Homo sapiens: one gene and its partner. The protein of the gene in region 1 interacts with the protein of each later gene in a pairwise test. Each region holds a gene or a part of one and is shown on either strand. Other genes may lie near its edges.

Region 1 (7,033 bases):
TAACAGGGTTCTTCTCAGAGTGAGATTTTTTTTTTTAGCTCTTTAAACTGTTGGGGCTCAGGAAACAAAACTCCAAAATGAAGCCCCAGCAGCAGCCTCAGGAGCAAAAGTTTTTCTCTGACCTTCTCCTGCCCTCCTGCCTCCCAGTCCTGTTCTCTCCCGAGGCTGGCCTTAGAAACCACAAAGGTCCCCTCTCCACAAAGGTGAATCATAGAAACCAGAACTCCTTTCCCCAAAGCCAGCCACGAAACCTGAACATATTACTCTAACTCTCCCTCCACCTTTCTGTGTAAAAATTGGCCACAAAGGACAAAGGAATTGACCGGACCTACCTTGTTTGCCAATTCCAGAGAGGGTCCCGCCCCACACCCAGAAGGAAGGCGTGCTGCTCAGTGAAGCCATGAAGAAGCTAAACGGACAGGCCTCGCTGGGTTCCCCACTTAGTCTATGACCATTAGATCCTGCCCTTTTTGTCCAATCATATTTCTACACAGCTGCCCATCCTTTGTTGAACCTAAGCATAAAAATGGACAATTTGCCCATATCTTTTTGGGTCTTCAATCTGAAAGCTCCCAGGTATACACATGAAATTATATGTATGCCTTTTCTTCAATTAATCTGCCTTTTCCAAGTGGATTTTTCAGGGAACCTTCTGTTCCTCTTGGCCCCTACAAAATACAGGATCTAGATCTGATTATTATTTTTATTCCCTCTGCAGAATTAAGCACAATCTTATGCAGAAAGTATTGTGTTACCTGAGCACTGATGAAATGACACTGGGCAGCATCACAAGCCATCTTTCCAATGATTAGAAGGACAGTAACCTTCTCCATTCTGTTCCTTTCCTTCAACTGTCACTACAGTGTCACCTAGGAGCACTCTGTCACTCTGGTTTGATGTTACAATACAGCATAGTATGTACAGTTTGGTCTCAGTCATACTGAAGTTTGGCTAGTTTTCTAGAATTATCTTTACAAATAATAGCCTGTGCTTATGTTTCCAAGTTAATAGTCTGGCTTTCACTGCCTAATTAAATGAAAAGGGCTTAAAATTCACAAGACTCACCTCTTCAATTACTTTTCTATTTGTAGTGTGATCATTTTAGCAGAAATTAAATTAGTTAGAAACCTAACTAAAATAAATGCAAGCTTCACACAGAAAATAATATATTCAGATAATTCATATGGATCACAATTAATTAATTATTTTTTTTTTTTAGACAAAGTCTCGCTCTGTCATCCAGGCTGAAGTGCAGTGGCACAATCTCGCTCAATGCAACCTCCGCCTCCCGAGTTCAAGTGATTCTCCTGCCTCAGCCTCCTGAGTAGCTGGGATTACAGGCACATGCCACCACGCCTGGCTAATTTTTTTGTATTTTTAGTAGAAACAGGGTTTCACCATGTTGGCCAGGCTGTTCTCAAACTCCTGACTTCAAGTGATGCACCCACCTTAGCCTCCCAAAGTGCTGGGACTACAGGTGTGAGCCACCACACCTGGCATCAACAAACAATTAAGAAAATGAATGGGAGTGATGTAGAAAAATATTTTTGTACCTATGATAAATCATGAGTGTATGCTTATCATAAATATCATCACAGGGCTATCTTTGAAGAGCTCAGAAAATGCCTACCCATATCATATGCTGATATGTTACAGAGACTTATGTTACGATCCCCATTTACAGACAGAAAATTAATAGGGTAAGAGGTTAACAGTCTCTTACACACCTTGGAGTGAGTCAGTGACAGAGTTTTCTCCTCTAAGCCTCAGTGTTCTCCTCTTTATAATAATGGCCTTACAGTGAGCAGAGACTATCATGATGGTTAAATGTGTCAGCATGTGGAAAAGGGAAAGTCCCTGAAAAGTGTCCGACACACAGTTAGTGTTCAAGAAGTATTGTATACAAATATTATTAGTTAGTGTTCAAGAAGTATTGTATACAAATATTATTGTGTTACTGTTACTAGAAGGCTGACGCCTGAATATAGAAATGAAAAATAGAAAGACATGAAGAAAAACCGTGGCTGAAAGTCATACCCATTGCACCGTACGTACCTGCAGCAATATATGAGCCTCCCCCAGCTTTGTAGAGAAAATGGCTGGCGAAGGGGGCTGCACAGATGATCAAAAAGCTTGCGATGACTACAGCAACTACCCCCAGGAGCATCAGGACTGCCCAGAAACCACGGTAAACTGGAGACCCCAGGAGGAAAAGAGAAAAGAAAGAAAAATACACTTAGATTGTGTACACAGCAGATTGTCACAGTCAGTTGCTTTCATCTTCATTTTTCTAATTTCAGCTATGGCACTGCTAGATAGAATGCCAGGGATGGGTCTGAACAAACAGGAGATCTTATCAGATGACCTTGGAATCAGTGATGTCCAAGCTGGTGACCTTCAATCAACTCCTCTTGCTCAATGTTTGTACCACACACATGCTTAATATACTGTGGGAGCTCTTTTTTCCATCACGATTTTCCATTTTAGAAGCAAGAAGACCTAAGGTTCTTGCTTCTAAAGAGTTCTCCCATTTAAGTACCCAGTTGGGTAGCCTAGAAGTGTTTCATACCGAATGTCCAAACACATGTAAATGCATTCACATTATTTACAAACACTACCTCACATCTTCTTCTAAGATATATTTGTACCATGATTATCTCTGAGAGCTGATAATAGTCACCCCAAGCCCCTAACCACAACAAAAATATCCACTTCTATTTAGATTGTTGGCTCTATAGAAAACAGTCTAAGGCAATAAAAAATGACAAGCAAAACCATAAAAGAAGTTCGTTTAGCTATGCTTTCCAAGCAAATCTGATAATTTAAATCAGATGTATTTAAGGCTTACCTCTTTCTATTAATATTTTCACTTAGATTCAAAATGAGAAGTATAGGAGTCTATAGGAGTCAAGGACAAGCAAGGCTAAATTAATGGAAACAGCTGGTAAGAAATAGTAGGTTTGGTGATATATGGTAATCAAACAAAAAGGAATTCTAACGATCATTTTTGAGTTGGATAATTACCAATCTTAACCAATTTCATCATTTCCAAAAGGATAAAAAGCTAAAATAAATTCTTGATAGTATAGATGGGGGAACGCTCAGTGAAACATATTAGTCAAGTTATATTTTAAGAAAATATACAACTTGATAAGAAGGAAAAGAATATTTTTTTTTCTCAAGAAGCCTTCCTGGCAAAGAAGAAATCTATCAATCAACTGGAGTTTTACAGGAAAGAGGATGGGAGGATGGAAATTTGAGAAGAGGAGTCACTTCAGTTAAATGGAAAAGGAAGGCTCGGATTTTTATGTGAATAACCAAGTCCTGAAAACAGGAATACATGATAGGCTTTCACTTCCCATACCAGTGCTGGCCACTTGGCATGGTTTCCAGGGCTGCTGTGTTAGACAATATTCTGCAGTTGTATTCAGGCTCAGCAGGGAACAGGGCAGTGAAGAGATACTAATGTCAGCTTTGAGTATGGAAATTACGAGTTGCAGAGTGTGGCCAAATATTTGCTGTCCTTGTCCTACCATAGTTTATTAGGCAATTGGTGAGTCTCACATTTTACATTTTCATTTATTTCATTTAGAAATAGGTTGAGGTTATCTTTCACAGGACAGCTTCTGTGCCAAGTGCTAGGGGTATAATCATTAACAACAAGAAGCAGCTCAGAGAATAAGAAATCCATTCTACGACTGTACTGATCACAACTAAAACTAGGTAAGTATGACAAGCAACCATATAAGGACTGAAAGTAAATAATAGCAAGTGGAGTGAGAAGGAAAGTCAAGTCTTAACAGAGATCAAGTTGCAAAGTTATCTGATTTTCTTCTTTTTTCCTCATGGATTTGGCCTGAAGGCAAGCGAATGGGGAACTGTGTAAAAGGTGCGAATAGCAAAAATCTTTAGTTGAATTCATTTCCTAGAAATCTAGGAAAATAGCCCCCTAAAGCCAGAGTAAATCCCCATGTTTATTTTTTCCTCTTTTTATTCCCTTAGTCCTGCCTCCAGATCAGCTTTAAATACAGGTCTGCACTGCTGCCCCAGTGGAGGCGTGGGCACTTAAAATCCCAAATGATGACCCAACCCTCTAGATAGAGGAATCACAAAAAGGAACCCTCATTGTGCAAAGAGGAGGGAGGAATCATGGTTATGTTTTTTCTCCTTTCTCTTGCTGCTTGCTATGTGTCATGGCTGCATGGAACTGTGCCACAGCGCAGGAGGCCAGAACTCAGAATTCAACCTTTCTGGCCAGAGAAACTGGGAAAAAGAGTCCGAGGAGCCAGAGGGTGTAAAGAAAATCCCACAGAGAAAAGAGCTAAAGAAAAGACTCTAAAATTCCACGTTTGAACCTACACAAATACCAAGCACACCCCCAAGTTGCACATGCACAGGAAACAGACCAAGAAGCATAGCAAAGTCTTTAAGAACCAAATTACAGTTTGAAGACCGTCCAGGTTCCAGAGCAAGCCCTGAGTGGTGTGCGCCCCAGGGTGCACAGCACAAACAGCATCACATAGACTTTGAAAAATGAATTAAAATTGAAACTGCCACCACAGAAGAAAGGGACAGATTGGGTTGGTTGATTGCCTGCCGAAAAAATAATAATAATCAAATTTTTTAAAAATCAACATTATCCAGAGAATTTTAACAGTGAATTCTCCACTGAATTTAACACTTTGAATTTTGACAACATAAAATTCAAGGTGTCCAGGATACAACCTGAAATTACTTGATATACCAACAATAATGAAAATCTGATCAATTATCAAAGAGACAGCCAAACCAAAGATGATTTAGATATATGAATTATCAGACAGACTTGAAAGTAGTTATTAGAACCATTTTCTATAGACTGGGGTGAATACTCTTGAAATAAATATAAAGAAATTATAAGGTCTATAAATTACAAAAATAAATTTTAGAATTAGAAAACACAATATCTGAAATTAAACCCATGCAATGGACTCAATAATAAAACAGGGATGAGAGAGGACAGAGTAAGTGAACTTGAAAATAAAGCAATAAAAATTATTCAATATGAGAAACAGAAAGAAAAAAGATTGAAAACAAAATAAATGAAGTTTCAAAGGCTTGTGGAACAATATCAGAAGTTCTCACATTTGTGTCATTGGAGTCCTAAAGCAGAGGCCGTAGATATTGGTGAAGAAAAAATATTCATAAAAGTAATGCCTGAAAACTTTCCAAATGTGATGAAACACAAATTTACAGATACAGGATACTCAGCAAACTCCAAAGCGAATAAACTCCTATAAATTAGTCAAGACACATAATAATAAAATTACCAAAAACTCTAAACAAAAAAAAAGTCTTGAAAGCAGCCAGAGGAAAAAATCATTACATAAAACATATGGGGAAATAATCCCAAGGCTCTAACTTTCTCATCAAGAATGATGGAAGCCAAAAGACAGTGGGAAAACATTTTTAAGCTGCTGAAAGAAAAGACCTTCAACTAAAATTCTGCACGTGGTGAAAATATAGAAAGAAGGGTAGGGTGAAGCCATTTGTGAAGAAGGAAAGAGTAGAATGTGTTATCAACAGACCTGTTCTACAGGAAATGCTAAAGGAAGTTCTTTGGGCTAAAGAGAAATGACACCGGAGTGCACGTTAAACTTCAGAAACAGAGGAAGAGCAGCAGAAATGATTAATATCCATGTAAATAAAGTAGAATCTATTTCTTGTCTTAGTTTCTTTAAATGATATTTGTTAAAATTTAAAAAATCAGCATAATACAGTAGAAAAACATAGGTGTTGGAGTCCGAGTGACCTGAGTATTTACCACTTTCTTGCAAGGTAACTTTGGACCAGTTACTGAAACTCCTAGAAGTCTCTTTTTCTGTAAAATAGAGATGTTTGTGTCCATCCTTTAGAACTATTAGAAGAATGACTTACAATGTATGTGAAGTGTGTGGCATATAATAAGAAACCAATAAAAGGCATTTCTTTTTTTCTTTTTCTCTTTGAGACAGAGTCTTGCTCTGTCATACAGGCTGGAGTGCAGTCATGTAATCACAGCTCACTGCAGCCTCAAGCTCCTGGGTTCAAACAATCCTCCTGCCACCTTCACCCAAAGTGCAGGGATTATAGGCATGAGCCACCATGTGTGGTGGCTTTTATTGCTATTATTATCAAGATTGCATTATCACTGCACAGCAGGGGGTCTTGTGTTCAGCAATAGGAACATGTATTCTTTCCCTTAGCTTGTATGGTCAGCCCTCTCTATCTGGGTTTTGCATCTGTGGATTCAACCAACCATGGATCAAAAATATTTAGGAAAAACACAACAAAAAATGTCAATACAACAATAAAAATCATACAAATTGTAAAACAATACAGTATAGCAACAATTTACCTAGTACTTGCATTGTAGTAAATATTAGAAGTAATTTAGAGATGATTTAAAGTATACAGGAGGATGTGCATAAGTTATATGCAAATACTATGCCATTTTATATCAGGGACTTGAGTGTTCACAGATTTTCATATCCTCAGGGGGATGGGTCCGGGAAACAATTATATGTGGATGCTGAGGGACAACTGGATGGCTGTACACTGTTTCTGATGTGCCACTGAGGTTGGAACATCTCTTTAAATGATAGCTTAGAGTGCAGTAGTCATGTTTGGGCAAAGTAGACTACTGATACAGAAAGTTCTACGAAGTTCTCATACCATCTCTCATGGGAACGTTTTCTGTCCATTTACCTCCTAAAAAGGTAGTGGCCATGTTCCATATCACATGACTCTACTCCTACAAACCTAAAACATCAGTAAATGGGAGCAGATACCTGACACAGAGCCAATGCACGGTGACCTCTGACCCATGCCTTCTGAAGAACAGTTTGAAAGATGAATTGGAATCATCCTTGTGATCCCCTAGGAACTGGAAAACTGAGAAAGTGAGGTGATGAGCAGCAGAGCAGAAGCTCACATGAGGCACTGACAGCCCGAATCAGATGAGCCAGGGAAGCCCAGGCTCAGGGATCCTGAACCAGGTCACACAGACGGCAGA
Region 2 (4,984 bases), on another chromosome or scaffold:
GATTCCCAGATTCTCCTTATCCCATTCTGTTAGCCCCTAGTACTTAATCACTTTCAAAAATATTATGTAATTTACCTATAGTATGTTTACTTTTTTCTTTGTTTTTATTGCTAGAATATAAGCTCCATGGAGGGTGGGGGACAGAAATCTTTCTTTGGTCATTGATGTTAGCCTCGCATCTAGGATATCAGTGGGTGTGTAAACAATATTCAATCAATGTTTGTTTCAATGAATTGTTGCCAAAGGAATGAAGTACGTGCTGCATATATTAATTGAAAATTCTTATTCTTTTTTAGATACAGAACAGTTTTGGAATGAACATTGCCAGTGCTACAATTGCACTAGTGGGGACTGCTTTTCTCTCACTAAATATAGCAGTTAATATCCAGTCATTAAGGAGTTGTCACTCTTCATCAGAGTCACCGGACCTATGCAATTACATGGGCTCCATATCAAATGTATGTTTCTGAAAAATATGTATAAGTATAAAATATTTCAAACAATCCAGGATGTACAGAAAAATAATATATCAGGTACCAATGTGCCATAATTTGAATCTTTTTTTTTTTTTTTTTTGAGACGGAGTCTCGCTCTGTCGCCCAGGCTGGAGTACAGTGGAGTGATCTCGGCTCACTGCAAGCTCCGCCCTCCTGGGTTCACAGCATTCTCCTGCCTCAGCCTCCCGAGTAGCTGGGACTACAGGCGGCCACCACCATGCCCAGCTAATTTTTTGTATTTTTTTAGTAGAGACGGGGTTTTACCGTGTTAACCAGGATGGTCTTGATCTCCTGACCTCGTGACCCGCCCGCCTCGGCCTCCCAAAGTGCTGGGATAAGGGGCGTGAGCCACCGCGCCCATCCCATAATTTGAATCTTGGGTCTGTCGCCTATTTGCTTTATAATGAAGGGCAAATTAGATAATCCCTTGAATTTTCTCATTTTTGAAATGAGGATAACAATAGTACCCGTCTCATAGGATTTATGTGAGTATTTAAAAAGTTAACATATGATAAGCAATTAAAACAAGGCTTAGCATATCATGATACACAATTATTATTACCACAACTACTACTATTACACTCCCCAGAGAGATTTTTTTTTAAGTTTCATTTCACCGGGCGCGGTGGCTCACGCCTGTAATCCCAGAACTTTGGGAGGCCGAGGCAGGCGGATCACGAGGTCGAGAGATCGAGACCACCCTGGCCAACATGGTGAAACCCCGTCTCTACTAAAAATACAAAAAAAAAAATTAGCCGGGCATGGTGGCAGGCGCCTGTAATCCCAGCTACTTGGGAGGCTGAGGCAGGAGAATCACTTGAACCCGGGAGGCGGAGGTTGCGGTGAGCCGAGATTGCGCCATTGCACTCCAGCCTGGGCAAAAAGAGTGAAACTGTCTCAAAAAATAAAAAAATAAAAAAATAAAGTTTCATTTCATATCTCCTTGCTTAATAAAACAAACTTGAGAGATTTACAACTTTCTCTGCAATCTGGAATGTTCAAATAATGACTTGAAGTTTTGAAGGACTGCGCTTTAGAATGAAATTAGCATGGTGTTTTCAAAGGAAAGCTCTTTAATAACCTTACCTTTTTTTTTTTTTTTTTTTGAGACGGAGTCTTGCTCTGTCACCCAGGCTGGAGTGCAGTGGCGCCATCTCGGCTCACTGCAAGCTCCGCCTCCTGGGTTCACGCCATTCTCCTGCCTCAGCCTCCCGAGTAGCTGGGACTACAGGCGCCCGCCACCACGCCCGGCTAATTGTTTTTTTTTTTTTTTTGTATTTTTAGTAGAGACGGGGTTTCACTGTGTTAGCCAGGATGGTCTCGATCTCCTGACCTCGTGATCCGCCCGCCTCTGCCTCCCAAAGTGCTGGGATTACAGGCATGAGCCACCGCGCCCAGCCAACCTTACCAATTTTTTAAAAATTTGTGTTCAGGTACTCTACCTCTTCTGAACTCTACTTAGAAATTAATATTTTCCTTTGGAATTATCCATTTCATCCCAGTGATCTATGAACTGTTAATTACAGACTCACTCCTAAGCTTCCTGTTTTCTTTTTATTATTATTATTATACTTGAAGTTCTAGGGTACACGTGCACAACGTTCAGGTTTGTTACATATGTATACATGTGTCGTGTTTGTTTGCTGCATCTATTAACATGTCATTTACATTAGGTATTTCTGTTAATGCTATCCCTCCCCCAGCCCCCCACCCCACGACAGGCCCTGGTGTGTGATGTTCCCCGCCTTGCGTCCAAGTGTTCTCATTGTTCAGTTCCCACCTATGGGTGAGACACTACTTATGGAAGTTTGTGTTCTCATTTTCTTTATTACATTTTTAATGATCTAAATTTATATTTGTCGGAGCCTGATTTTTCTGTGAATTTGGAGGTATTTTTCCTCCAGGGATATATTGTATTGGTTGCTTCTAGGTGCCTCAGTAATAATAGTAGAATCATTAGCCCAACAATTTTATTTTTTGTTTATATTAGCTCAGTGTTTTAGTTTCTAGGGATAATGTAAATGCCTAAACCCCTATGAAGTGCTAATGAAATTGTGGAAGGGCCATTTTTGTTCATTTTTCTAAACTGCCTACTCCTCTCCTTAGTTTACTACTATTCAGATTGGAAGATGTTAGTGATAATGTCAGAATTTTGTTTCTACAGCTTCTTCCCCCTGTAGCTACTTCACATGCGTTGACATAGAAATGTGACACATCTTTCTCATTAGAGAAAATGTTTTCATGCTTTTAGATTGAGATACTATCTCTTCTACAGTGTTATATGTGTCTCTGTCTTTAATTTATGGTTCACTTTGTTCCACTTTACGGGAGGGAGATGTTGTAGTCTGGTTTCCTGCTGACATTTTTTTTTTTACCTCTGGATGTTGCCACTGGGTTTGATATAAGGCATCATATCCCCTAGGGCATGGTGTCTCTACTGCTGATTCTCACCTTGCTGGAATTATGCGTAACCATCTCTACCATAGCCATGTGGTGCAATGCAAACTGCTGTAATTCAAGAGAGGTGAGATTTTTCAAATGATTAATCATTCACATGATCTCAAAGCCTCCCTGTAGGGTTTGAAGTTGTTTCTGATGCTTAGAAATAAACCTTTATGTGGTAATGATTTGTGGAGTTCCTGGAATTAGAGATTGTATGAATGTTAGAGATGGAATGAAGGGTAGAAAAGAATTTGGATGTGAACATGCAAGAGGAAATACTGTACTTGATATATAAGAGCATACTTTCTTATACAGCTGTAATTAAGTTTTATTATTTTCTTATAACTTGTAACTTTCTAATTGTATGACCTAGGAAAAATTAATAATTCTTTCTAAATTTTAGATATATTAACTGTAAAATGAAAATAATATTTTCATTCTCTTCTAATGTTTGTTGTGAGTACTGTGTATATAATCTTTATGGCATTTGGCACAGTAAACATCAATGAATGGATTTTATTGTTGATGATTATGATGATAACAGGAAGGGATGGGAGGAGAAGGAGATAATGATCCTGTTCTTGGACATTAATGTTGTTTTATTTTCTAGGAAATTTCCTCACCTCCCAATTCTGTGTAATCAAGAATACCTCCTTAATTCTGAGAGCATGAATATTTGACCTTAAATCTCCAGTGACTCAGAGCTTCACCCACAAACTCAGGAGAACATAAGCCTGCTCGTAAAGCTCAATCCTTCTATCATGGCACCAATCACAAGAACCTTGGACGTTTGACTGACTCTATCCTTTCTCTCCTAACTATAAATCCTATTTGTGTGTCGTGGGTATGGAAGGACAGATATATTTCTTTAGGCATTCTTGGATATCTGTAACTTCTATGATCATTACTCCAAAGTTGTTTCCAGAAATTGGTTCTATTTCTTCTTATCCACCTACTCCATTGCTTTATGAGGTTTAAGGAAGGAAGGCGGTATAATCCCTATTCAATATATTTTTTCTAAAATCCAACTTCTGACCGCCCAGTAGGAAGAAAAATGAGACATTTTTTCCATTACAGAGAAATGCTTCTTGACTTTAACATCAGCATTATAAAAAGTGTCAAATAAAAAATTACCATCATTATCATTAAAATAAATTTTCACTGTATTTGAGATGGGAGGGTTAAGGCTCAGGGATTTTATTTCAGTGAACTGCTGGAACTCACACATGCCCTGATATGTAAATGATGATTTATGTTGGCGAGTCTGAGAGCAAGCCCAAATGTGTTCTTCAAAGGACAATGGGAAACTGTAAAGTAGAGAACTAAAGAATAAGGCCTTTAGAATCTGACACATCTGGGTTCAAATTCTGAAACTGTCACTTATTACCTGTATGAACATGGGCAAATTATCTAATCTCTCTGATCTATTTTTCCTCATCTGTAAAATAGGTGTAATAATAACAACTACTTTGTCGGTTGCTCTGAGGGTTAAATGAAAATAAAAAGAAAATGTGAAACAGCACCACAGGTACTTGACAATGATGTTGCTGTTGTTGTTGGTCTTGCTGTTGCTGGTGAAAGCTAAGGTGGGATTGTGGTCAGATGTGCTGGAGAGATACAGTGGAAAACTTACTTACACTTCCATTGTGGCTCCTCGTATAACCTCCAACAACTCCAATAGCCATCTTTTCGAGGTGGCAATGTGGCGTGAAAACTTCCCTCAGTTCCTCGTTTATAAATCTGCTAAAGCACTTATATTTCTTATTCATAAATATCCAAGAAAAATAAAATTTATGAATAAGAAATATAAGCACTTATTGTGTCCATAAATTTATACCAATAATTTATTCTTAGTTACGTGTATATCGTATGTGCAAAGGTTCTTTTCTAACACTTGTATCCTACTTATATAATAATTATTTCTTTATTTTTTAATCCATTCTGCAGCGGGATAATTAAGGAACCAGAGAGACTGAGGGGTTGAGGAGGAATTATTTAATTATTTAGGTGCACCGACCCAGTCGGATTAACATCCAAAGGACTGA

The links. The genes of interacting proteins can lie anywhere in the genome.
Region 2: the proteins of TMEM182 (region 1) and MS4A3 interact in binary tests that used the Homo sapiens proteins (3 or more experiments, as listed by UniProt).

What each region holds. Positions count from the first base shown.
Region 1 is NC_000002.12:102,793,023-102,800,055, reverse strand, and holds part of TMEM182 (transmembrane protein 182 isoform a precursor), read right to left. Parts: intron 2,194-7,033; coding exon 2,056-2,193; intron 1-2,055. UniProt on the Homo sapiens protein: Negatively regulates myogenesis and skeletal muscle regeneration via its association with ITGB1. Modulates ITGB1 activation by decreasing ITGB1-LAMB1 interaction and inhibiting ITGB1-mediated intracellular signaling during myogenesis.
Region 2 is NC_000011.10:60,066,655-60,071,638, forward strand, and holds the end of MS4A3 (membrane-spanning 4-domains subfamily A member 3), read left to right. Parts: intron 1-296; coding exon 297-458; intron 459-2,919; coding exon 2,920-3,021; intron 3,022-3,549; coding exon 3,550-3,579; 3' UTR 3,580-4,461; downstream 4,462-4,984. UniProt on the Homo sapiens protein: Hematopoietic modulator for the G1-S cell cycle transition. Modulates the level of phosphorylation of cyclin-dependent kinase 2 (CDK2) through its direct binding to cyclin-dependent kinase inhibitor 3 (CDKN3/KAP).